Homo sapiens: one gene and its partners. The protein of the gene in region 1 purifies or fractionates together with the protein of each later gene. This does not show direct contact. Each region holds a gene or a part of one and is shown in the gene's direction. Other genes may lie near its edges. The genes, in order: TMEM200A, STX6, PPP3CA, STX7, FYN, PLEKHH3 and ANKRD22.

Region 1 (3,500 bases):
AGATACTCTGCCCTGAAATGTGAAAAAATGAGAAGTAGATACATATAGAGAGGGAGAGAGGACACTCGCTAGCACATGCTGAATGTAGCAGGTTCATGAAACACTCTAGTTACAAAGGTGTGTACTTGAGGATGCTCTAAATAAAATGAGTTACTAATAGAATGTGAGTGACATCATATCGTTCCCCAACAAATACAAGGCCAAATTTGTATCTGCTTAGGTGTGTGACTGGATGTGTGCGCAATTGACTGTGTATGTATGTACAACAAGAGGAAGGGGAATGAGAAGGTGTATAAAAATAGAAGTATTTATGAGAACCTTGTAGCCTATTCGGAGAGGTAAAACAACCATGTGTAAAACTTTTAGAACAACTCAATAGAATAATATGTAAACAAATGGTTACAATGCTTTGAAATAAAGCTGGTAGAGATATGCAAAGAATATTAGAGGCCTGTGACACAAAAGCAATGGTGAATAGGAGTAGGCTCTTTCTTGTAAATAGTGAGCTAATCACAGAGGTGCTGATAGATTAGCAACTGCTGGGGAGAAAAAAAAGTATTTTCCTTTTGAGAATCAACATCTTTGGGCTTAAATGCAGGATGAATCCAAAGAATCTCAGTACTGTCTCTAAGCTGAGGTTGGCATAGGAGAGACACAAATTTTGTTTCCCTTGGCAAAGTAAGTCAGATCGGCTTAGTGAACATACATGTGCAAGTATTTGCAATAAAATGGAGTTAGCATTTCTGAAGAGATGTTGTTAGATTTTCTAATCATAAAGGCGATACACACTCCCAATAAAAACCTTAGAAAAATACATTAAGTATAAAAAGTCAGGGAGAAAATTTGCCTGTAATCCTATGACCCAAAGGCACTCATAACATTTTGGCATTTTCTTTCTCCTTATTTTTAATGATTTTTTCCATAATGCTTAATAGTGTATTACAACCTACTCTGTTTGCTTAATCTTATGTCTTAATATTTTCCAACTTCTAGACAAGCTTTATTAATGTCAGTATAATATTGGATTATGTGGACATATCATAATTTATTAACTATTCCCTTAAAATTGAACTTTTAGGCCATTTCCAAATATTTGATATTATAAATGGCACTTTGATGAATCTTTCTTCAAATTTCAGAATCTGTTTTTTGTGCATAAGGGTTATAAATGCATTTATATTCCATTTTATATATGTTTATCAGATTACTTCTTTTAAAAAGATTCGTGGAACGATAATTCCTGGGTCAAAGGGTATGAAAATTTCAGGCTCTTGATACTTAATGCCAAACTGATTTTCAAATAACTGAAGTTATGACTGACAGTGCATGGAACTACCCTTCACATGCTCTCACTAGGTGATTGTTTTTATTTTTAAATTTAAAAAAGCCACCATTTTGAAAAAAAGAATAGTTTATGCTAACTGCTGATTTTGTTCCTTTGTTACCCAAATCTCCCTTTTAGAATGTAGACTATGTAAGATATTGTGATTCATTTCACTTTTAAAAATTTACTTATGTTTCTGAACATGCAGATAGGGGCCCATGATAGAAAAAAGTAGCTTGTGAATGATTTTTTGAAAGCCAGTGTTATACATATCCTGTTTGGGGACTCTTCAGACTCTGCTGTGGAACAGCCCGTGAGAGAAGTTGATTGATGTAGGATGAGAGCCCCTTTTTGCAGAGCTAAACCCCTGACAGCCCCGCCTCTGTAGCCTTGGATATTAGGTCCTAGTAGTCATGGAGTGTTCTAACTGCACTTTTCACTGGGGCTGTAACCCAAGTGAGAGCAGGCCTGTAACTGTTTTGTCCATGGCTATGTCCCTAGCAGATGACCTTAGACAAAGTTTTGCTGGGAGGTGGGATCTGAAAATGCCTGAGTTTTTGTTTTTGTTTTTGTTTTTGTTTTTTTTTTTTCAGACGGAGTCTCGCTCTGTCACCAGTCAGGCTGGAGTGCAGTGGCATGATCTGAGCTCACTGCAATCTCCGCCTCTCAGGTTCAAGCGATTTTCCTCCCTCAACCTCCCGAGTAGCTGGGATTACAGGGGCACACCACCACGCCAGGCTAATTTTTTGTTGTTGTTATTTTTAGTAGAGATGGAGTTTCACCATGTTGGCCAGGCTGGTCTCGAACTCCTGACCTCAGGTAATCCACCCACCTCAGCCTCCCAAAGTACTGGGATTACAAGTGTGAGCAACCTCACCTGGCCATGAAAATGCTTGAGATTTTTCCCCTAGAAAACTTCTATAATGTTAGTCACTGATTGCCCAGAAACAAACTTCCTGAATTTTGAAACTTCTGGTTTTACTCTCTTTTCCAAAGAAAATTCAACCACATCACAGTACCTAGTTTTATGGCAATGAACTTTGACTTATTCCAGAAGAGGAATTTGGATCTTACACATACCTCTGCAGGGTATTTTATTGTCTAAAAACACTTACTGAGAGTAAAGGGAACTATTAAACTTACAGTAGCAGTCAATTTGAGGTGGTTTTTGAGTGCCAATTTCAATTTTTCCACAACTATTATATTCCTACAAAAATAATTTACAACTAAAATAAAAAATGTTTTGGTTTTCTTCTAAAAGTTGAAGGATATTATTCTATTGTAATAACTCTATTCTCCTTTATGGATCTCAGTCAGTAATTTTGAACAAAATTATTTTCGTTCATTTGTTCAACAAATGATTATTTAGAGAGATTCATTCAGCAGGTGCTGTTAAATTATATTATGACTCATTTTGTCAAATATGAGACAGATCTTCTTACACAACAATAACGCAGAACACTGTGTAGGAATTTATGCCTATACATTTATTTACTTACTTATAAGACACATAAAATCTCTTATAACATGCGTTAAAAAGTAAACTTGGCTCAGGAGAAGGTTTATTAATTAATAAAGGATTCATTAAATATTTGTGCTGCCAGCTGGGGATCCAGTAATGACCAAAACAAAAAGTTATGGAGGAGCTTACATTGTAAATGGAGGACACAAACAGGAAACATATAAATGAGCAAGGCAATTTCAGGCATTCAAAAAGTGCTGTAAGGGAAGTCAAGAAATCTGATGTCATAGAGAGTGCATGCGCTCATTTAGATCAGATGGTCAAGGAAGACCTCTCTGCATTTGAGGCATTTAAGCTACAACCTGCGAGAGAATGAGGAGCCAGCCTCACATATTTGGGGAGGGGGCATTGGAGTAGGTTTTATACTCAGTGCACTGGAAAGCCATTAGAAGGTTGCTCTTTTGGAGCATGATGTTTGAGGTCATTTATTAAAAATGAGTGTTGAGATGAAGAGTGCAAAGTATTACCTCACTGTAATGATGATATTGGTATTGGGAGCAAAAACAATGCTCACATTAGAGACTATATGTAGTTATGGTCAAGATATGTCATATATCACTATATGGCTGAAGACATTTCATATACAGTATGTCTCCCTACAAAGGGGTTTTAATATAAATATAACGTAAATATATTTAATAAATTTATAAATAT
Region 2 (3,500 bases), on another chromosome or scaffold:
AAAGGCCATATTAGGACTTATCATCTGAGTATAAATTATTAATACTGTCACACCAAGTGGAAGCATGTGGGAATGCTCATTGCCCTTTAGTTAATTTGTAGGATTGCTTCATTATACTTTTACGTATAGTCTGTTCAGAGAAAAATATTAAATTTGTCCTTCCCCAACAAACTTGATATTGTAGCTGCTTAAATAATGGCTATTGTATTCCAAGCATCAGCTGAGAACATAATACTCAGACTGTGTATCAAAGTTTTGAACTTTGATATTTGTCTGTGAAGAGCCTTCTGTGGGAATGGTGGTTGCTGAGGATGGTGTATGATCATAAATGTTAACCTAAATCATGCAGTAACTTGACCATGGAATGTTGTCTGTGATTTCTCTCCTTTGCCTCATCTTGATTACAGAGAGGTACAGAAAGCAGTCAACACTGCCCAGGGATTGTTTCAGAGATGGACAGAGCTCCTCCAGGACCCCTCCACAGCAACAAGGGAAGAAATCGACTGGACCACCAACGAGCTGAGAAATAACCTCCGGAGCATAGAGTGGGATCTAGAGGACCTTGATGAAACCATCAATATCCTTTTCTGTGGTGTCTGTGCCATTCGGGATAAATAGACAAATGGACAAGTTTTTCTCCAGTTGTTTCCAGTATGTAGATGAAACATTTTATAATCGATTAATGTTTGTTGCTCTTACTTGTACCATGACATGTTTAAAGTATTTGCCCAGTAACTTAAGGTACAGTAGCCAAATTCTTATACAGTGTGTGACAAATCCTGTACTATAAATGTATATATATATATAAAGGCAGCATAGTGTAATGATTATGACTGTGGACCCTGGAGTCAGATTTCTGGTGTTCAAGTCCTGCCTCCACCAATGTAAAGGGAAAAAAAAAAAACCCTTTTTTTCTTTTTTTTTTAAGTCTCTACCCTCACACTCAAGTCAGTATGATATTTCTGACACTGTCTACTTGGAGATAGCATCAGGTCCACAGGTTAAGAGCTCAGTCCCACAAGACTGCCCCCACTTCAGATGCCAGTTGCAAGCCCTAGGTTGTGACCAGCGCTTCCAACTGACCACGTATAAATTGGAGTTCCCACGACCCCCTCCATAGATCGAATTAATTTAATTTGCAAGAGCAGCTCACAGAACTCCGGGAAACAGTTTCCTTAGGTTTATCCATTTGTTGTAAAGGATATTACAAAGGATACAGATGAATGACCAGATGGAAGAGATGCATGCAAGGTATGGGAGAAAAGGTGCAGCACTTCCAGGCCCTCTTCAGGTGCCTCCAGGAACCTCCACATGTTCACCTATCTGGAAGCTTCCTGAACTCTGTCCTTTTGGTGTTTGTGGAGGATTCATTTCGCAGGCATGATTGATCACATCAGTTGGCCATTGGTGATCAGCTCAGCCTTCAGCCCCTTTCCCCTGGGGTGGGGTTAAGCAGGGGGCTGAAAGCTTCAACTGTCTAATCACATGGTTGGTTTCTCTGGGGACCAGCCCCTCGTCCTGAGGCTATCTAGAAACCCCCAGCCATCAATTATCCCATTAACATACAAAAGATACTCATCTGGAGATTCCAAGGGATCAAGGAGCTGTGTGCCAGAAATGAGGGGGCAGAGACCGAATTTGCATTTATTACAGTATCACAACCAGTTACCATGTGACTTGGGCTCATCACTTAACCTCCTGTGCTTCCGTTTCCTCTTTAGTGGAAAGTTAGGATAACAAGAGTACCTAGCTCATAGGATTATTGGGATTATACAGGTAAAGAGTTTAGAATGGCACCTGGCACACAGCTTATGTAATAGTGTTAGCAGTCATTATCATATAGAGGTCCATACAGGCCAGTGTTACACTTCGGTAATTAGAGATCAAAAAATCTTTTTGTAGACTGTCTTCATGTTTAAGAAGTGATGTTACAGTGCTACCGTCCATTGAAGAGATGTCTTGTTCCATGAAACTGCATTTAGTAAAAGCAGATCTGCTCTGCTAATTCATGGTATTGATGTGAAGTAAGTCCACTGATCTGACTCATGCACTGGAGAACTGTAAAAACTTCATTATATAGCCTTTTTTTCCAACTGGAAATCCCACTTAACCAAAACTTTAGATGGAAGATATGCCACTTGCATGTTCTGAGTTCTGTTTTGTTTTTTCCCTAAGTGAGATAAAACATAAGGAAACCAGCTTCTGTCAGGATCACCTTATAGTTAGCACAGGTTCGTATGCAGTTGATACATGGAGTAAATAATTTTTGTTATTCATGATGACCCTGGTACCTTTTACATTATTAAAAGGCAAGTATGTTCTCTAAAATTAGTGGCAAATATGTGAGGGGGCAGGATCAAAAGCACAGTTACAGGGAGATAATTCTTCCCTTGAGAAAGGAGGGAAGGAAAAAAAGTTAGGGGAGATAGAGAAAATGTGAGATTAAAAAAACAAAAGTTTTAATAGATACTCATCATTCAACCAGCAAGTGTTTATTGAGTATACTATGTGCCAGGCATTTTGTTGGTTACAGAGATTAGATTAATAAACACTATACCAGCCCTCACAGAACTTTGAGTGGATAGGGATGGGGGACAGATGGTAATCAAGTAATAACACAAATAGATACCTGCAGACTATGAACGAGAAGTATAGAGAGCTATGCAAGTGTCTGACATGGTGCGTCGGACCAGGCTAGAGGGTAAGGGAATGAGGGCAGCTTCTCTGAAGAAGGCCCGATCTCTCTAGATTAAGAAGTAGGGTTAGCATCTTGGCATAATGGGAAGTGGTTTGGAATGGCAGGAGAAAAAGGCTTGCAAAAGCTGTCTTAGTAAAGGTGATCAGGAGTCAAAAAAGGATAGACACAAGTGTTGGCAAACAGGAAGAGCCCAGCTCACCTGTGGTCAGATAGCCCTAAGTGTTTGCAGTGAAGCTCATCAGCAGGGGCTATGCTTCCTAACCAGACAGATCATCTCTGTCTTGGAGCAAAGGGATCCTCCCTCCTGTGGCTGTGGGCAGAGGAAGTCTGAGAATGATTGGTGTCCAGCTGACTGTGTTTTCAGAAAGTTTGAGCCAGATTTTATTTGTTTGCATGTGAGAGATTCAGTGAGTTAACAGGATGTTGTCAGGCTTTGATGATGAAATTGTTTTACCTTGACTTTTTGACCTACGCATAGTTGAAGCAAATCCTAGAAAATTTAACCTTGATGCAACTGAATTGAGTATAAGAAAAGCCTTCATTACAAGTACTCGGCAAGTTGTCAGGGTAAGGAATATGATCTTATTGTGTTATCTGTATAAGAAATAGCCAGACTTCTTAGAGCTCTTTCCCTTAATTGTAAACTAATAGGTCACCTCTGAAACCACTTTTTAAATATGAATTAAATGTGAGCTTCCCCATATATAATTTCTCTGATTGGCTGCGCATGGTGGCTCATGCCTGTAATCTCAGCACTTTGGGAGGTGGAGGTGGGTGGATCACTTGAGCCCAGGGGTTTGAA
Region 3 (3,500 bases), on another chromosome or scaffold:
GCTAAATCTAAGAATAAATTTCTAAGATTTGGATTATGTTTAAAACGTAACATTATTGAGAATAAAAGATATGATTTCATTTTCTGTTTACTTTTTAAAAGTATAAGAAACAAATATCATGAGAATTTTCTCATTACTTTAAAAACATTGTTAAAGTAGTAAACTGTTTTAATAAGCTTTCAGTAGCTCACATTGCTAAGTGACCTTTTTTGGCTTTTTGATACAAATTTAATCCTTTATTTTCTAACAGATGTTACCAATTACTGGACAATTATTTTTTCTTTTACCAGGCAATTTAAAAATGTCCTCTAATGGGGTTGCTCACATCAATTATTCAAGTTTTGATGTTTATGATGAAAAAGGCATTTACATATTGATATATTGGTATTTATTTCAATCCCAATATTTCTTCTTTCTGTAGTAATAGGTAATGAATAAACTGTGAGGAGTTTTTTATGTTTTTTAAGATATTACTTGGTGTTTAATTACCCTCAAAGGGTATGCTTTTTCTGCAAGAGGCACAGATCCATGAAGTTAAAGATGAAGGGGAAAATTACCCTGAGTCTTACAAAAGCACCTCAAAATGAATGGAAACTGACAAAAATGTACTTAGAGAAGAAAAGCATAAGAGCAAACTTTACTGCATTTAAGAAGTACAGTTGAGGCCGGGTGCAGTGGTTCCTAGCACTTTGATAGGCTGAGGCAGATCACTTGAGACCAGGATTTTGAGACCAGCCTGGGAAACCTAGGGAGAATTCATCTCTACAAAAAATTAGCCATGTGTGGTGGTGCATGATTGTGGTCCTAGCTACTCAGAAGGCTAAAGTGGGAGGAAATCTTGAGCCCAGGAGGTTGAGACTGCAGTGAGCCATGGTCATACCACAGTACTCCAGCCTGGGTGACAGAGCAAGATCCCATCTCAAAAATAAAAGCAGTACAGTCAGCCCTCCGTATCTGAGGGTTCTGCATCCATGGATTCAAACAACCTCAGATTGAAAATAATTCAAGAAAAAGTTGCATCTATACTGAACACATACAGACTTTTTTTCCTTGTCATTTTTCCGTAAATAATACAGTTTAACAACTATCTACATAGCATTGACATTGTGTTCAGTATTGTTAAGTAGTCTGGAGATTAAAGTATACTCAGAGGTCCTAGATTCAGGACACCCAGGGCTACAAGATGCATTAAAAACCTATTCTTTGAAGAAGTTGCAAACTGGTTGGAGAGACTGATGCATAAACTAATAATATCAATAAAATGACACAAATTATAAATAAAGGGTGAAGAGGGCAAGGGAAACTAGATATTATGGTGAGTTTAAATGGATAAAATGTATACCTTTAAAAACTGCAGTTCAGTAAAATGAAAAGAGAATGTGGTCCTTTCTAAAAGTTGGTTTCCAAATGACATGATTTAATGTTTACCTGGGCTTGATACAGGTCATGGGTATAAATGCAAAATACCTAATGCTGCAGGCAAAAGTATAATAAACCTGTTCATACACTCATGTAAATAGAGTCTATATACTCAGGTAAATTTAATGTATGAGATTTATTTTTAACATCTCATAGTTTTTCTCCTCTATAACTTCTCTTGTCTTTATTACTTGTCTTCATATACTATTTTTGAGTCATATACCACATCGCAAGGAGATGTGCAACATAGGGAAGGAAAGGGGAAAATGGATATATTTAAAAAACAACTTTACTGGGCTAAAATTAAGAATATATAAGAACTTAAATATATTGGCATATTTTGAAATATGCAAGAGATCAATGGACATTTTGTGCTTTATCTAAATTCTAGATGTTTCATATGTTATAGCCACAGTTTGCTACTGTTATCTTTTAAATGATAGCACTGTTTTCAGAATGGCAGAAATTTTTTCCTAAAAGAATACTAACCAAATGGAACCTAAATCATAAACATCAACAAACGTTTTTCAGTATGTACCTTTCACTATATTCCTTTTATTCTTTAAAAGAAAGATTAACATTAATACAATAATAATCCCCTATTAATAAATGTTTGTTTTTTGCAAAGTCCACTGGCCAGTATTTATGATATAGAGAACAAAAATGTAACATACTGTAGAGAATAAGAATGTGTAGACCTACATATGTTTGTAATTTTTATGTTAATCCATTCACTCAGCAAATATATATTCAGTATCTACTAAGTACCAGGTACCATAGCCAAAATGACTGCACATTTCACTGGTACATGTTATTCCTGCACAGTTACCAACATTACCAAGACTAACCCTGTGCTTACTTCACTTCTAGTAAGTTCCCTTTACTCACCATCTCAATTACTTACATGAAAGGATTTGTTTTGTCAGTTACTTTATTTTAAAATAATTAGTTCTAATCAATGTGCTGTGCTCACCACCAATTGCTTTTTAAACTCTGTTTTAATTCCAATTGTAGGAGTGCATGTTTGTCTTAAGGTCCTTGGAAGAATTTTTTTCTTTCTAAGCAGACCCCTGAATTCCCCCTTTACCACTCTTTAAGTTTTAAGTCAGTCCTGCAGAGAAATTTTGTCCTACCAGGTGCAGGGAGGAAGATGGTCAGGAATGCCTAACCTGCTCTTACCAGCTAGAAAAGATGAGCTTTATCTCTCACTTTTGTCAACTTCCTTCAGTGGTCCATTCCTGTCAAGTTAAACATCATTAAGTTATTTATCTTTCTGAACAGTTTCTTCTGCTTTAATTTATTTCTGCTTAGCTATATTAACAATAAGATTTGTGTTTTCAAAATTTTAAGCAAAATTTACACACAGGCTAATTAAAGTATTCAATGCATATTAAAAGTCCTATGTGTCTATAACTTATCAGATTGGGAGCTAGCAGAAAGAGATAAGATTATTGCTATATAATTTTTAGGGATAGACAATTTAATTTCCTTGGTTTCCTGTCTCATGGACCTCACTTAACCAGTAGTATGTGGGTGTTTTTTCTACCTTTTTTCTCCATCTTATTTAAAATTTGTTGGTGTATTTCCCTTAGTCAAACTAAAGAGAAACAATCATCTAATCTTATGTTTTATTTCTTTTGTATATGTACATATGAGAGGAGGAGGAAGAAAGAGATGAGGAGAGGTGAAAAGAAAAGATCCTTCTGCCTGATTGGGCTTTGCCAGCATATGATAGCAGTGCAGGCCTTGGTTCCATGAGCAGCATCAGATTCAAATTTCATAGAAAAAGAGCCCAGAGGAATTGAAAAAGAGAAATTAAATTCAACAAGGAGAGGCATTGTATACATTATGCATTCACGATAGGTTATGATTGAGAAGAAGCTGGTGCTTTGGGAAAAACATATTAGGTTCTACATTTACCCTTTTTGAATAGTTTTCTCCTTTCTAAACAGGGTGATAATAGGAGAATGCTGAATGCCTCTCCATTGAATTTGGAAACTGCCGGGCCAGCATTAGTGTGGTATTGTCTGCCCACACTTTTCTAGATGCAAGTTTAAGATCATGTTCAGTGTGAACATTGA
Region 4 (3,500 bases), 2.1 Mb from region 1:
TATCAAGTCTATTGACAGGTACTTTTTAGTGTGAATAGAATCCCATAGTATAGATGTACCACAGTTTGTTTAACTGTTCACCTGCTGAGAGACATTGGGCCAGTTTTTGGCTACTATAAATAAAGTTGCTATAAACATTTGTGTACAAGTTTTTGTGTGAACATAATCTAGTTTTCTGGGTCAAATGCCCAGCAGTTATATAGTAGTTGGGTCATATAGTAGTTGAATGTTTAGTTTTTAAGAAATTGCCAAACTTATACCAAGTAGCTGTACTATTTTATATACCCACCAGTGGTGTATGAGTGATCTAGTTGCTTCATGTCCTTTTCAGCATTTGGTGGTGTCTCTTTTTTATTTTAGTCATTCTGATAAGTGTATAGTGACAGCTCATTGCAGTTTTGATTTACCATTTTCCCTTCGCTAATGGCAATGATGTTGAGCATCTTTGTTTCATATGCTTATTTGCCACCTGTATCTCTTCTTTAGTGACATGTTTCTTCATGTCTTTTCTAATTGGATTTTTTTTCTGTTGAGTTTTGAGGGCTTTTAAATAATGTGTGTGTGTGCCTCTGTGTGTGTGTGTGTGTATTTTTTTCTAGATACTAGTCCTTTGTTGGATGTGTGATTTGCAAATATTTCCTCCCAGTCAGTAGCATGTCTTTTCATTTCTCTTTTCTGGGCCTTTCACAGAGCAGAAGTGTTTAATTTTGATGAAGTCCACTCTATCCATTTTTCTTTTTATGGATCATGCTTCTGGTATCAAGAACTTTGCCTCTCTCCTTAGATCCCCCAAATTTTCTCTTTTATGTTGTTTTCTAAAAGTATTATAGTTTACGTTTTACTTTTAAGTCTATATTCCATTTTCAGTTAATTTTGTATAAAATGTGAGACTTAGGTCTGGGTTCATTTTTTTTGTTGTTGCCTATGGATATTCAATTACTCCAACATGATATTTGTCGAAAAGGCTCTTTTTTGTCCATTGAATTGTTTTTGCACCTCTGTCAAAAATCAGTTGAGCAAAAATGAGTTAATGAGAAATCAGTTGGGCACATTCGTGTGGGTCTATATCTGGGTTTTCTATTCTTTTCCATTAGACTATGTGTCTATACCTCCACCAACACCAAAATCTTGATTACTGTAGTAAGTCTTGAAATCAAATAGGCTGGTTTATTCCACTTTCTTTTTCAAAATTGTTTTAGCCACTTAGTTCCTTTGTCTTCCCGTATAAACTTTGGAATAATCTTGTCTGTATCTATTCAAATATCTTACTGGGATTTTGACAGGAACTATGTTATACCTATACATCAATTTGGGGAGATTTGACATCTTTACCATGTTAAGCCTTCCCGATCATGATCACAGGATCACTTCACTTCATTTCAGTTAAATTTTGTTTTCCTTCATCAGTATTGTGTGGTTTTCAGCATACAAGGTCTGTACATGTTTTGTTAGATTTATACCTAAGCAATTTAATTTTTGAGAGAGATTGTAAATGGCATTGTATTTTGAATTTCCTGTTCACATGTCTATTCTAAGTACATAGAAATAAAGTGAATTTTTCTATTTTGTATACTGAGACCTTATTGAGCCCACTTACTCATTTTAGGGGATTTTGATTGATTCCTTGGGATTTTTTTTTTATATAGATAGTCATGTCATCTGCAAATAATGAATAGTTTTATCTCTTCATTTCTGACCTATATTCCTTTTTTTTTTCCTTTCAGTCCCTTAATGCAGTGGGTAGAAATTCCAGCAGAAATAAAAGCAGTGAGAGTAGAGATCCTTGGCTTGTTTCTGGTCTTAGGCAGAAAGGATTCAGTGTTTCACCATGAAGTATAATGTTAGCTGTAGGTTTTTAAAGTAGATGCTCTTGCTAAAGTTAAGGAAGTTATCTTTTATTCCTTTTTTTCTGCAAGTTTTTATTATGAATTTTATGTTGAATTTTGTCAAATGCTTTTTCTGCCTTAATTTACATAATGCCATTTTTCTTCTTTAGCCCATTCATGTGGTAGATACATTGATTGATTTTTGAATGTTGAGCCATTGTTACATCCCTGAGATAAACTCCACTTGGTCGTGGTGTATCTTTGTATATATAGCTTAATTCTTTTGGCTAATATTTTGTTAAGGATTTTTGCATCTGTTTTAATGCGACATACTGGTTGGTGGTATCAGGGTAATACTAGCTTCAAAATGAACTGGAAAGTATTCCTTTCTCTTCTGTTTTCTAAAGCGGATTGTATAGAATTGGTGTCAGCGCTTTTTAAAACATTTGATAGAACTTTCCAATGAAATCATCTGGGCCTGGAGATTTTGGGGGAGGGAGTTCTTTTTATTGTAATTTCCACTTTTACAATAGTTATATGGCTGTTTAATTTATCTATTTCATATTGAGTTGTGACAGTTTGTATTTTTAGATGAATTAGTCCATTTCATCTAAGCTCTCAGATTTATATGTAGAGTTTTTGGTTGTATTTTTTGTTAGACTTTTGATGTCTGATATTCCAAAACTCCTTCATTTATCATTTCCTTTCTGTTTAGAGCACTCCTTTAGCCTTATTATTATTATTGTAGTTCCATTGGCAACAAATTCTCTCAGTTTTCTTTCATCTGAAAATGTCTTGATTTTCCCTTGATATCTGAAGAATATTTACATTAGACATAGACTTGTAGGTTTATAGTTCTTTTCTTTCAGCACTTGAAAATTGTTCTGCCACTTCCAGCCAAGAGGGGTGGCTCACGCCTGTAAGCCCAGCACTTTGGGAAGCCAAGGCGGGCAGATCACTTGAGGTCAGGAGTTTGAGACCAGCCTGGCTAACATGGCGAAACCCCGCCTCTACTAAAAATACAAAAATTAGCCGGCATGGTGGTGCACATCTGTAATCCCAGCCATTTGGGAAGCTGAGGCAGGAGAATCACTTGAACCCGTAGGCGGAGATTACAGTGAGCTGAGATCGCACCACTGTACTCCAGTCTGAGCAACAGAACGAGACTCCTTGTCAAAAAAAAAAAAAAGGAAAGAAAATTTCATGGTTCCCCATGAGAAATCCAGTTTTTTAAATTGTTTTGGTCCCTATAGATAGGTGTCATTTGTCTTTTTTCTTTTTCTTTTTTTCCTTTGTGTTTAGTTTTTAGTTGTTTAACCATGATGTATCTTGTAGATTTGGGGGGTTTATTATATTTGAGGTCTTCTCACCATCTATATGTTTATGTCTTTTGCCAATTTTGGGGAGTTTTCAGCTGTCATTTTTTTCAAGAACTTTTTCAGTCTTCCTTCTTTCTTCTTTCTTTTGAGACTCTGATGACACAAATGTTAGATTTATTGTAGTTCCGTAAGTCCCTGAGGTTCTGTTCATCTTTGTTCTGCCTGTTTTCTTCTGTTGTTCAGACTGTGTAATTTCTATCATTTTATCTTCAGATTTATTCATTCTTTCTGCAGTAGCTTCCATTCTGCTATTGAGCCTATCAATTAAGTGTTTCATATTGATTCCTGCATTTTT
Region 5 (3,500 bases), about 19 Mb from region 1:
TGCCACCACGCCCAGCTAATTTTTGTATTTTTAGTAGAGACGGAGTTTCACCATGTTGGCCAGAATGGTCTCGATCTCCTGACCTGGTGGTCTGCCAGCTTCATCCTCCCAAAGTGCTGGGATTACAGGCGTGAGCCACCACGCCCGGCTGGAATGATACTTATTTAAAGGATTATTTTTAGGATTACATGGGTTAATATGTTTAAAGTCCCTTGCAGATAGTAGATATTCAGTAGAGATACATACTTCTCTTTATTTGATTGTCATTGATAAGGCTGGCTGCACTGGGCCTTTGTAATTTCTTTTATAGCCCTTTTGGGTCAGTTACAGCTTTGCTTAGAAACAATTCATGGGTTTAGGCCCCACTCAAAAACATGTTTCAGTAAAACAATATTAATACTTATGGAATCCTCTATCTTCCTTCCTCAGAACTCATTAAAAACAATATCGATCAGTACCCTTTGCTACGTGTGGGTATAGATCTTTAGGTGTGGTCTGCATTAAAAGAGTTAATACAGGTGGCCGGGCACAGTGGCTCACACCTGTAATCCCAGCACTTTGGGAGGCCAAGGCAGGCAGATCACCTGAGGTCAGGAGTTTGAGACCAGCCTGACCAGCATGGAGAAACCCTGCCTCTACTAAAAATACAAAATTAGCCGGGCATGGTGGTGCATGCCTGTAATCCCAGCTACTCAGGAGGCTGAGGCAGGAGAATCACTTGAACCTGGGAGGTGGAGGTTGCGGTGAGCGGAGATCGCACCATTGCACCATTGCACTCCAGCCTGGGCAACAAAAGCGAAACTCCGTCTCAAGAAAAGAAAAAAAAAGAGTTAATACAGTTAAAGCACTTAAAACATAGCCCAGCAAATGATAAGTACTACAAAGATGTATGTAGGTATGTTAGGTGGATAAATAGGTAGTAGACAGACATACACATATATATGTATGAGTTAGCTAGTTTAATAAATCCACATTATTGTGTCCATCTCTCTCTGGACTTAATCTCAAGTATCGTAAAATATATGACCTCCTTCTTCCTCATTCACCCTCTAATAATAGAGGATTTTAGTCAAATTACTCACACAATCACAGAGAATTGGACCCTATTAGAAAATTTATTTTCAAATTTTACAAATATCAACTTTAAATCATTACATATACTGTTCACATTTTGTTTTCCAATAAACACAAGACAACATGCCCATCAGAATTGGGATGGATGTCTGTGTAATTGACGAAGTTTGTATTACAGAGGAAGATCTTAATGTATTTAGAATTTTGGGTGCTGACTCTTAAATAGCAAAGATCACTTATAAATTGTCAAATTTCCCATGAATGCTTAGTGGGCAGATATTTTATGAAGTTTAAATGAACTTTTCTTTAAGCCACTTGTTTTTTCATAATTTATATTTTGTAGGTTGCATGTTGTAATTGTATGAACCATGTCTTTAACAGGATAATAAGAACTCCAATTTACAGAATCCTTAAATTCCAAAGTCAGTTATATTAAATATAAAAATCTTAATTTAAACCAGTCTTCTTTTTCAAATAGAAAATAATCTAAATTAGCAGATTTCTTCCCCTTTATAAAGTTATTCTTAAGCATCATAGGTCTAATAATGGAATACACAAAGAACCTAGGTATGGTTTTGTTTTTTGAATGCTGGGGCTGAAAGAGACCCAAAAGATAATCCAGTTCCATTCCTATATTTTACAGATGAGGTAACTGAGGACAATCATAATCCAGGCCTTGCCTTCAGATTTGCTAGATTTTTTTTTAACATGCTAAATTTAAATATTTCTGTTCCCTCTCAGCTGCTGTTTAATTTCCCCTGTCTACCTACCTGACAGAAGCCATTGTTCTTGTGGCTAGCCATCAGTAAAGCTGAGGAAATTTGCCTTACCTTGTTGAAGTATTGGCAAGCAGACTGTGAGCTCCTTGCCAGTGCTTATCAGCATGCTTGGCACACCTGTGCAAGGACTCAGTCAAGTAACTTGTCCATTGCAGACATTGAAAGTCTAGAGGTAATTTCCAGACATCCTCATGTGGTGCCATATTTTTAAATGGCACACCCCATAAACTTAAATAATCTAATTTCTTCCATGCACACTGTACTCCCTAAGGGACAGCTATTAGATGGCCAGGCCTGTTCCAACCCCTGGACTTTCATCACTGTATGGTGCAGAGCTTTTGGTATAAATGTGTAATCATATGACTGAGCCAAAAAAAGAGAGAGTGGTAATATATCAAAATTTAAAAAAATTTTAATGAGTTATAAATCTTAATATAGCCATCTTAGCCATAACCACAAATAAACTCATTTTTTCTGTTAAAATACTTGACAGAGTCCTTGCAATTGAATGTCTTTGTTCAACAAAAACTGTATTAAGTGTTTTAAATTTAAAATCTAATCTTATGCAAATAGCTGGTGGTCAAAACCTTTTTCCATCAAAAGAAGATCTTTGGTTTGACTTCATATTCTGGGATGTTTGTAGGTACCTGGAATGGAAACACAAAAGTAGCCATAAAGACTCTTAAACCAGGCACAATGTCCCCCGAATCATTCCTTGAGGAAGCGCAGATCATGAAGAAGCTGAAGCACGACAAGCTGGTCCAGCTCTATGCAGTGGTGTCTGAGGAGCCCATCTACATCGTCACCGAGTATATGAACAAAGGTTGGGCAACACCTCTCCTGTCTCCAGCTCACAGTGCCTTAAGGGGTTGTTTAGGGGAGAGAAATGGAAGTTTCCTACTTGCTACTTTTCTAGTTTCTGCCTGGGTCAAGTATTCCCATTAGGAACCACCAGTTATGTGCTCGTTAATGAAAACATTTTTTAAAACAGACTAACCTTGCGTTTACCCCACCCCAAATCCTTATGAAATGCCAAATACTTTTTACATGTTATGTGTGTCAGAAATTCAAGCTCCTCTCCATAATTAAAACATTCATTTTTAATATCAGGGTGGTACGGAGGGTTATGATAGTTTGCTGTTATTTTGAATGTAGTAGCTTTTGTTACATTTCCTTTTTGCAGGGCTAAACAATTAATATCAGACACTGGTCTCTAAGCTAAGTTTAGTCTCCATCATTTCAACATCTTTTTTATTTCCAGCTCTCTTCTTAAACGTCAGGCGATGAAATTACATGCTTTCAGAGACCACATTTATTCTCACATTCTCTCCCCTACAACCCCTCTGTCTTCCTAATCAAACCAGCATTGTTAGGGATAAGGCCAGAGATCATTTTGTTTTGGAAAAATAGATGAACCAAACAAGAAACAGCCTTAAAAGGCAATACATTGTTTATCAGAGGATACCAGTGTAATTTTTCTTTTCCATGTACTTTCTTTTAAAATTTAATGGGAATTTTTTTTTCTGGCAAACGGTTTGTCCTTTGTATCCAGGGTTATTTTGTAAATAACTTTGTGATTAAAGCATAAAATATCACTGATGACCATCATAAGCCTCCAGCTTCTGCAAATGATTATCCCTGCTTTGG
Region 6 (3,290 bases), on another chromosome or scaffold:
ACTTGGAGCCTCATCCCGGAGAAAGGGCTGCCGGAGGACGACCCGGACATCGTTGTGAAAGGTAGAGACCCCCCTCAGTGCACTCTGGAGGCCCCCAATCCCAACCCCCTAGGGATTAATGTCTCTACTGATGTCCCTTCCCTCCCTCTCCGGCCCCCAGGTTGGCTGTACCGGGAGCCCCGCGGAGGAGGGGCGCGGCCCTGGCTGCCCCCGCGCCGAGCCTGGTTTGTGCTCACGCGGGACTCCCTGGATCAGTTCAGCAGCAGCGGGAAAGGGGCGCGGCGTCTCGGGAGCCTCGTGCTCACCAGCCTGTGCTCGGTGACCGGCCCAGAGCGCAGGCGTAAGGAGACAGGTGAGACCTCCTGGGGACTCTCCTACCTTCCTAGGCAGGGGCCCCGGCAGACCCTAATGGCCCTCCCTGGCCTCTCTTTTCCCCAGGTCTGTGGTCAGTGACTGTGTCTGGTCGGAAACACAGTGTCCGCCTCTGCTCCCCACGCCAGGCAGAGGCTGAGCGCTGGGGGGTGGCATTGCGGGAAGTGATCGCCTCCAAGGCACCCCTGGAGACCCCCACCCAGCTACTGCTCAGGGACATACAGGTACACACCAGGGAGAGCCAGGAGAGTGGTGGACCCCAAAGCTTTCTGGGGTTGTGAGGAACTCCCTTCCCCATCAAGGTGACCCTCTCCCTGGCCCCCTAGGAAAGTTGCGGGGACCCAGAGGCCGTTGCCCTCATTTACCTGAGGAACCCGATTCTGAGACACACTAGTGGAGCCTTGTATGCCCCACTCCTGCCCCTGCCCTATGGAGTCAGCGCCCCAGGTGAGTGGTCCCATGGCCCAAGTCCCCTGGATGGGATGGGGTGGTTCAGAGGTAAGAATCTGAATCCCTTAACTGGCAGGGATCTAAGCATCCTTCATGGACCTGCCAGCTCCTCACTTTTCGAAGGATGAAGGTGAAACTGGAAGCTGGCCAGGGTGGAGGAGAGGAAGCCAGCACACACAAAAGGGCCCCCTTTGGCCACCTTCTCTATGGGTCTCATTCTGACTACTGATGTTCCTTCAGGAGTTTGTACACTCCCCTATTTTTTCATTATCCTCTTGAGACTATGCCATATTACCTTTACAAGTGGTAGAAAAGCTACCACTTTTGTAGAATGTGCTGGCCTCATCCAACTGTACTTCTCCCTAAACGGTGTAGTGACTGGCCCAGGTCCTAAAGTTAGAGGATTAAAGGGTGCTGGGAGAGGAACCCCGGTTTTCTGACTCCTAGTCCAGCCTGTTTTCTGACCTATGGTGGTGAGCCTCAGTATGGAGTTACAGAATCTGGGGTGTGAATCTACAGCCCTTCCCGGCCGTCCGTCTCCCTAAGTCCAAATGCAGGCTTAGTGGGATTGGGAAGGGGATTCCTGGGAGGCAGAGGTTGAGAGTCTGGCTCCGTGGGACCACTGCTTTCCCTTCACTCTTCCTGTCGTTCGTACCCTCCCCTCCCTGCCACCCCATCCCCTTATATTCCCTCTGACCTTCCCCTGGTTCATGCCTTCCTCCCAGGGCGCAGCTCTGTGTCCCCTCTCCAAACCGTCCCTCCGCCCCCACCCTCCCACAGGTCCGGGCTATGCACCCCTGCGCGAGGAGGCGGTGCGGCTGTTCTTGGCGCTGCAGGCGCTGGAGGGGGCGCGGCGCCCCGGGCCCTTGATGCAGGGTGTGCTCCAAACCTGCCGGGACTTGCCCGCGCTCCGGGATGAACTCTTCCTGCAGCTGGCTAAGCAGACCTCGGGCCCTGCAGGTCCCCCCGGGCTCCCGGCTACCCAAGACCCTGCGGCCCTGCGGTACTGGCAACTCCTCACCTGCATGAGCTGCACCTTCCGACCTGGGGGAGCTGTGCGGGGGCACCTCCTGGGGCACTTGGAGAGGTGAGAGGGGCGAGGTGGGGGTTACGGCCTAGGCGAGGAGCTACCGGGCTGGGAGAGAATGAAAGGTCTTTTGCAAAAGACTTGGTAGGTAAAGAACCGAGTAATACATACAGTGCCTTTGTGGGAGATACAAGATCCTATCGCAGTTGTGAGCGGATGAATTACAATAAAACGCCCCCCTTGGGCTGAGGAGTTATGAAAAGGCTGCTTTTCCTCCAGCTGATGCAGGCCAGCGCCAGGGCTTAGGAAAATGTAGTAAAGTGGCTGGATTTCGATTTCAGGCCGAAGGAAGATCACGAAGACTTTTGGAAGTGGTGGAGGCAGTTGGGAGAAAGCTGCCAGGGGACTTGAAAAGTAATTCAGCTCTATGCAAAGCACTGGGGAGAGATTTAGAAGAGCCTTCAAAGAACTTGAGTTGGGGCGGGGAGGAAATCGGCTAGATAAAATAAACTATAAGAGAAGCAGGCAAGAGGGAGGGGGAGAAGAAAGCCCTTGGAGTATTGATCCCTGGGTTCCTCCTAACCCAGGACCGAGCAGGCACTCCCGGACTCGGAACTGGCGGAATATGCGCGCTTCATCCGGAAAGCGCTGGGCCGGACGCGCGGCAGAGAGCTGGTGCCCTCGCTGGCGGAGATTTCCGCGTTGAGCCAACGGCAGGAGCTGCTGTGTACCGTGCACTGTCCGGGGGCTGGTGCCTGTGCTGTGGCCATCGACTCCCACACCACGGCGGGGGAGGTGAGGCCAGAGAAAGGCCCCATGACCTCCAACCCACCCTGCCAGCTTCTCACGCCTGTCTCTCCCTCTTCCTGGACCCTAGGTTTGCCCCGAGTCTAGATTATTTTGGTAAGGGAGGGAGTGGTGGTGACAGGACTAAGAGACCCCTTCCAATTGAATCAACCCCTCCCAGAATCCTGGCAAGACCTCTGAGTGGTCTCCCCTCACCCTCCTCTTCTAGGTGGCTCGAGAGCTGGTGGGGCGGCTGGGCTTGGCCCGGAGCCGCAACGCATTCGCGCTGTACGAGCAGCGAGGGGCCCAGGAGCGAGCCCTGGCTGGGGGGACCCTCGTGGCCGACGTGCTCACCAGGTTTGAGAAGTAAATGTCCAGCCCCAGCCCTGCTCTCTATTAGCCCATCCACTTCTCAGCTGAGGTCAGTCTCTAAGCGGACATTATCCAGCGCTTGCCCCTGGCCCTGCGCTGTGGTGTTCGCTGGTTTACAGACGGACCTGCCCGCCGCAGGTTTGCAGTCCGACTGCAGCATCACCTCCGCTGTCGGCTCCGCCCAGGCCCCGCCCCAAACACATGGCCCCGCCCCCACCCCAAGCTGCCCTCGCCGTAGGGGTCCGGCTTCTCCCTAGCGCTTCGTCCGCTCCTCTTCTGCAGC
Region 7 (3,500 bases), on another chromosome or scaffold:
ATGCATAATTTACTTTAATTAAATGACCAAGCTCCCTCCTTGTTGTAGCTCATAAACTGTGAATATTGGTTACACCTGTTAACATCAGCCGCAGAACAAGTCTGCCCGTCAAAAATGTTATTATTTCATTGGGTATTTAAATGCCACAGAATTTGAGGAACTATAATTAAACATGACAATGTTGATTTTTATATTTGGATTTATAGGAGAGAGAAAAGAACTTTAATTCACTAATAAAAATATAATCTGCTCATATCCTCGAAGAATTCTTTAAAAATTCATTATGTATTTAGCACATAGCATTTAAATACATGTATTTTGGGGGCAGGGAGAATCTGTTATTTATTTACAAACATTTTTAGAGATTCTAAAGGTAAAAATTACAACTGTGATTAGAAGGCTCATTCAGAATTTATTGACACACAACTCTGCTTTCTAAGATGGTTCAATGTTTAGAGGCTGGAGGACTGGGCAAAAATAGTAATCGTAATGAATAGCTCAACTCTAGTTTCATGCACGTGCAATTTATTAATGGGGCCTAAAGTTGTAAATTTGTGATGAATTAACAAATAAGTGACATGAGAGGAAATGATAGGGGAGGAGAGAGGAAAGCATTGGGTTATTTCAGAGAAAAGTAGGCAGAGAAAGGCAGTTTAGGAGGTGACACAAGAGGGAAGCCTAAGGAGAGAGAACTGGATGGAGCTTCCCAGGTGATGACAGGGTTGAACTCCAGGGCTATACCCAGCTGAGCAGGGAGAGCTTTGCCTCTTCAGGAGACTGGAAGTTGGGGAAGACTCCAACAGGCTTGTGGTCAGAAGCTCAGGAGACTGGGAAGGAAAAGTGAATTTCTGAGGAGTCCTAGTTCATTTCATTAATTTGTTCAATTCTTTAACGTATGTTTATTATGGACCTACTATGTGCCAGACGCTGTGCTAGCTGTTAGGGACACAATGATGAACAAAATAGGCATAGTTTTTTACCCCATGAGAGTTAGAGGGTGGTGGGGAGAGTCATTAATCAAATGGCACAAACACATGTAAAATTACCATAAAGCGGGTGATACAGAAAGGCGACTGGTGTTAGGATAGCTAAAAAAGAGGGATTTCACCTGGTCAGGTGGGTCAGGGAAAGCTTCTTAGAGAAAGAGGGACTTGGGCTGATGAATGAAAGGTGAATATGCCAGGCAAAGAAGAGAGGGAGGAGGCTTCTAGGCAGAAGGAACTTCCTGTGCAATGATTCTCTGAGAATGAAAGATTAACAAAGGCCAATGTAAGTAGAACAGAGTGAGCCAGGAGGCGCAGAGTGAGAGAGAGGCCAGGGCAGGGCCATACGTGGAGCCAAAACATACGGGGCTTTGTAGGTCATGCTGAAGAGTTTACTTTTGTCCTCAGAGCAATGGGAAGTAATTGCACAGCTTTGAGCCAGGAAGGGAAAGACAGGTACTAGGCCCCATCCTCAGTGGAATTAGGTAGGTTTGGGGTGGGACCTGAGAAGTACATTTCTAAGGTTCTTAGGTGTCAGTGCCGCTACTTCAGGACCACAGTCTGAGAACCTGGCTTTAATTAATTGATATTAGAGTGAGTGAGAAGCTGGGGGAAATTTTAGGAAGGGTGCATGCATGCATAGGAGTGTTGGGATTAAAATGAAGCCTATTGATTAAATAGTCTCAGGCATAAATTGGAGAAACTATTTGTAAATAAGCCTTTCTTATAATTACCATTTGTAATAGGTATCAAAGACAAAGCAGAATGAGGCTCTTGTACGAATGCTACTTGATGCTGGCGTCGAAGTTAATGCTACAGATTGTGTAAGTTTATACTTTTAGCCATTTTGAAAAAATATTCAAAATGGTATTTGTAGGTAGCGTATTTGTCATCTGTACAGTTGCTTTATTTTCCTAGACAATTTTACATTTAGTTTTCTTTTATTTTCTCCTTTTTTTTCCCACTGACAGGCAACCTTGAGGTTATTTATATTCTGCTGAACTCATGGGAATAATACCTCTATTGATTATAAAGCATTTTTAAAATAATTGGCTTTAATGTTGTTGAGACGTTAAGGAAAACTAAGGCTCCGATAACAAAATACCAGCCATAATAGTTAAGAAGCTGGAGTGAGAATGCCCATGAGTAAACTCTGGGCTTGCCACTTTTTACTTCTATGAGTTTGAGCAAGTTGTAAACTTATTTTACTTTCAGTGTCCTCATCGGTAAAATGGGGATATGGATAATACTTATCTCATTGGGCTTGTTCATGTAAAGCACTTAGCACATGCTCAGAATGTAGTAAGTGCTCATTGAATGGCAACAGCTGCCACTGCAGCCAAAATCCCAACCCACTGATGAGAGGCCCCGTGTGCAAACTACAGATAAATAAGACAAAGGTCAAAGAAAAATCCCACTGATGGTAAGAGCAGTGATAACAACAGTAGCAGCATCCGCTCACTTCTTCCTGTTTATGAGCATAAGGTGTTGTTTTCACTTTCACCTCTGTGCTCTTGCACTCATCTTTCTTTCTCAATGATCACAGAAAGACAAAAGTTTATTTCTATGGTGTTTTGCTTATGGTGATTGAATAAAATTTTGGATTCCCAGTTCCTTATTGAAAAAGTAGGCAAGTGGAAATTTGATTCCAAAATACTAACATTCTATTTGTGATGCCTAACATATTTTACGTGTGTGCACATCTGTGTGTATTACCATTGTTTTATGATAGAGACCATGGCCCCATTCCTGTTTCTATCAATTATTTACATCATTTCGGTTTTGCCTATGCTGGTATCATGTTTAAATGCAGGCAGTTGTGTGTGTGTGTGTGTGTGTGTGTGTGTGTGAGAGAGAGAGAGAGAGAGAGAGAGAGCAAAAGAAAATAACTTTATGAAATTTATATTCCCTTTTATTTCAAATAGAACTTTTGGATAAATTTGTATTGACAGTTACTGTGCATTACCATTTCTTTAGATAGCTTTGAAATATATTAAGTAAGAGATTATTAAAGATGAAGTTAAAAGTTTGTTGAAGGTTTTTCTTGGTCTTTTCATTTAAATTCAATAGATTTAATATTCCTGCCTGTGACCAAAATTTCTCTAGGATATTTTCTCAGCAATTTATGTGTATTTCTCTCTCTAGATAGAGATATTGCATTCCTTCAGCTAGGCACAGTGACACTAGCCTGTAGTCCCAGCTACTTGGAAGGCTGAGATGGGAGGATCCCTTGAACTCAGGAGTTTGAGACACATGCAGGTACACACACAGACACCACTTCTAATACCAAAATTTTTTCAAAAACTATCTGAGTATTAAAATCTACTTTCTAGGTAAGACAGTGTTTTGTATTTTTGGATAATTAGACTCTATTTCACATGACAAAATTCAGAGCCAGAACTTCCATTTGTCATGCCACCACTTAATAAAAATAAATAATTGCAACATGATCTCCTATAATTTTAGAGGTGTTTCTAGGGAATGGGATCCAGAGCTAAACCTGTCTTGATAGCCAAA

What was found.
Region 2: the proteins of TMEM200A (region 1) and STX6 purify together in Homo sapiens (affinity purification with mass spectrometry; 2 studies listed by BioGRID and IntAct, with this or other methods). This does not show direct contact.
Region 3: the proteins of TMEM200A (region 1) and PPP3CA purify together in Homo sapiens (co-immunoprecipitation; 3 studies listed by BioGRID and IntAct, with this or other methods). This does not show direct contact.
Region 4: the proteins of TMEM200A (region 1) and STX7 purify together in Homo sapiens (affinity purification with mass spectrometry; 2 studies listed by BioGRID and IntAct, with this or other methods). This does not show direct contact.
Region 5: the proteins of TMEM200A (region 1) and FYN purify together in Homo sapiens (co-immunoprecipitation; one large-scale study listed by IntAct). This does not show direct contact.
Region 6: the proteins of TMEM200A (region 1) and PLEKHH3 purify together in Homo sapiens (affinity purification with mass spectrometry; one large-scale study listed by BioGRID and IntAct). This does not show direct contact.
Region 7: the proteins of TMEM200A (region 1) and ANKRD22 purify together in Homo sapiens (co-immunoprecipitation; one large-scale study listed by IntAct). This does not show direct contact.

The regions. Positions count from the first base shown.
Region 1 is NC_000006.12:130,372,517-130,376,016, forward strand, and holds part of TMEM200A (transmembrane protein 200A), read left to right. Parts: intron 1-3,500.
Region 2 is NC_000001.11:181,002,371-181,005,870, reverse strand, and holds part of STX6 (syntaxin-6), read left to right. Parts: intron 1-407; coding exon 408-577; intron 578-3,170; coding exon 3,171-3,265; intron 3,266-3,500. UniProt on the Homo sapiens protein: SNARE promoting movement of transport vesicles to target membranes. Targets endosomes to the trans-Golgi network, and may therefore function in retrograde trafficking.
Region 3 is NC_000004.12:101,057,527-101,061,026, reverse strand, and holds part of PPP3CA (protein phosphatase 3 catalytic subunit alpha), read left to right. Parts: intron 1-3,500. UniProt on the Homo sapiens protein: Calcium-dependent, calmodulin-stimulated protein phosphatase which plays an essential role in the transduction of intracellular Ca(2+)-mediated signals. Many of the substrates contain a PxIxIT motif and/or a LxVP motif.
Region 4 is NC_000006.12:132,450,617-132,454,116, reverse strand, and holds part of STX7 (syntaxin-7), read left to right. Parts: 3' UTR 1-3,500. UniProt on the Homo sapiens protein: May be involved in protein trafficking from the plasma membrane to the early endosome (EE) as well as in homotypic fusion of endocytic organelles. Mediates the endocytic trafficking from early endosomes to late endosomes and lysosomes.
Region 5 is NC_000006.12:111,695,453-111,698,952, reverse strand, and holds part of FYN (tyrosine-protein kinase Fyn), read left to right. Parts: intron 1-2,496; coding exon 2,497-2,676; intron 2,677-3,500. UniProt on the Homo sapiens protein: Non-receptor tyrosine-protein kinase that plays a role in many biological processes including regulation of cell growth and survival, cell adhesion, integrin-mediated signaling, cytoskeletal remodeling, cell motility, immune response and axon guidance.
Region 6 is NC_000017.11:42,670,705-42,673,994, reverse strand, and holds part of PLEKHH3 (pleckstrin homology domain-containing family H member 3 isoform 1 precursor), read left to right. Parts: coding exon 1-61; intron 62-160; coding exon 161-352; intron 353-438; coding exon 439-596; intron 597-698; coding exon 699-819; intron 820-1,602; coding exon 1,603-1,909; intron 1,910-2,436; coding exon 2,437-2,644; intron 2,645-2,864; coding exon 2,865-3,001; intron 3,002-3,289; coding exon 3,290-3,290.
Region 7 is NC_000010.11:88,824,345-88,827,844, reverse strand, and holds part of ANKRD22 (ankyrin repeat domain-containing protein 22), read left to right. Parts: intron 1-1,729; coding exon 1,730-1,807; intron 1,808-3,500.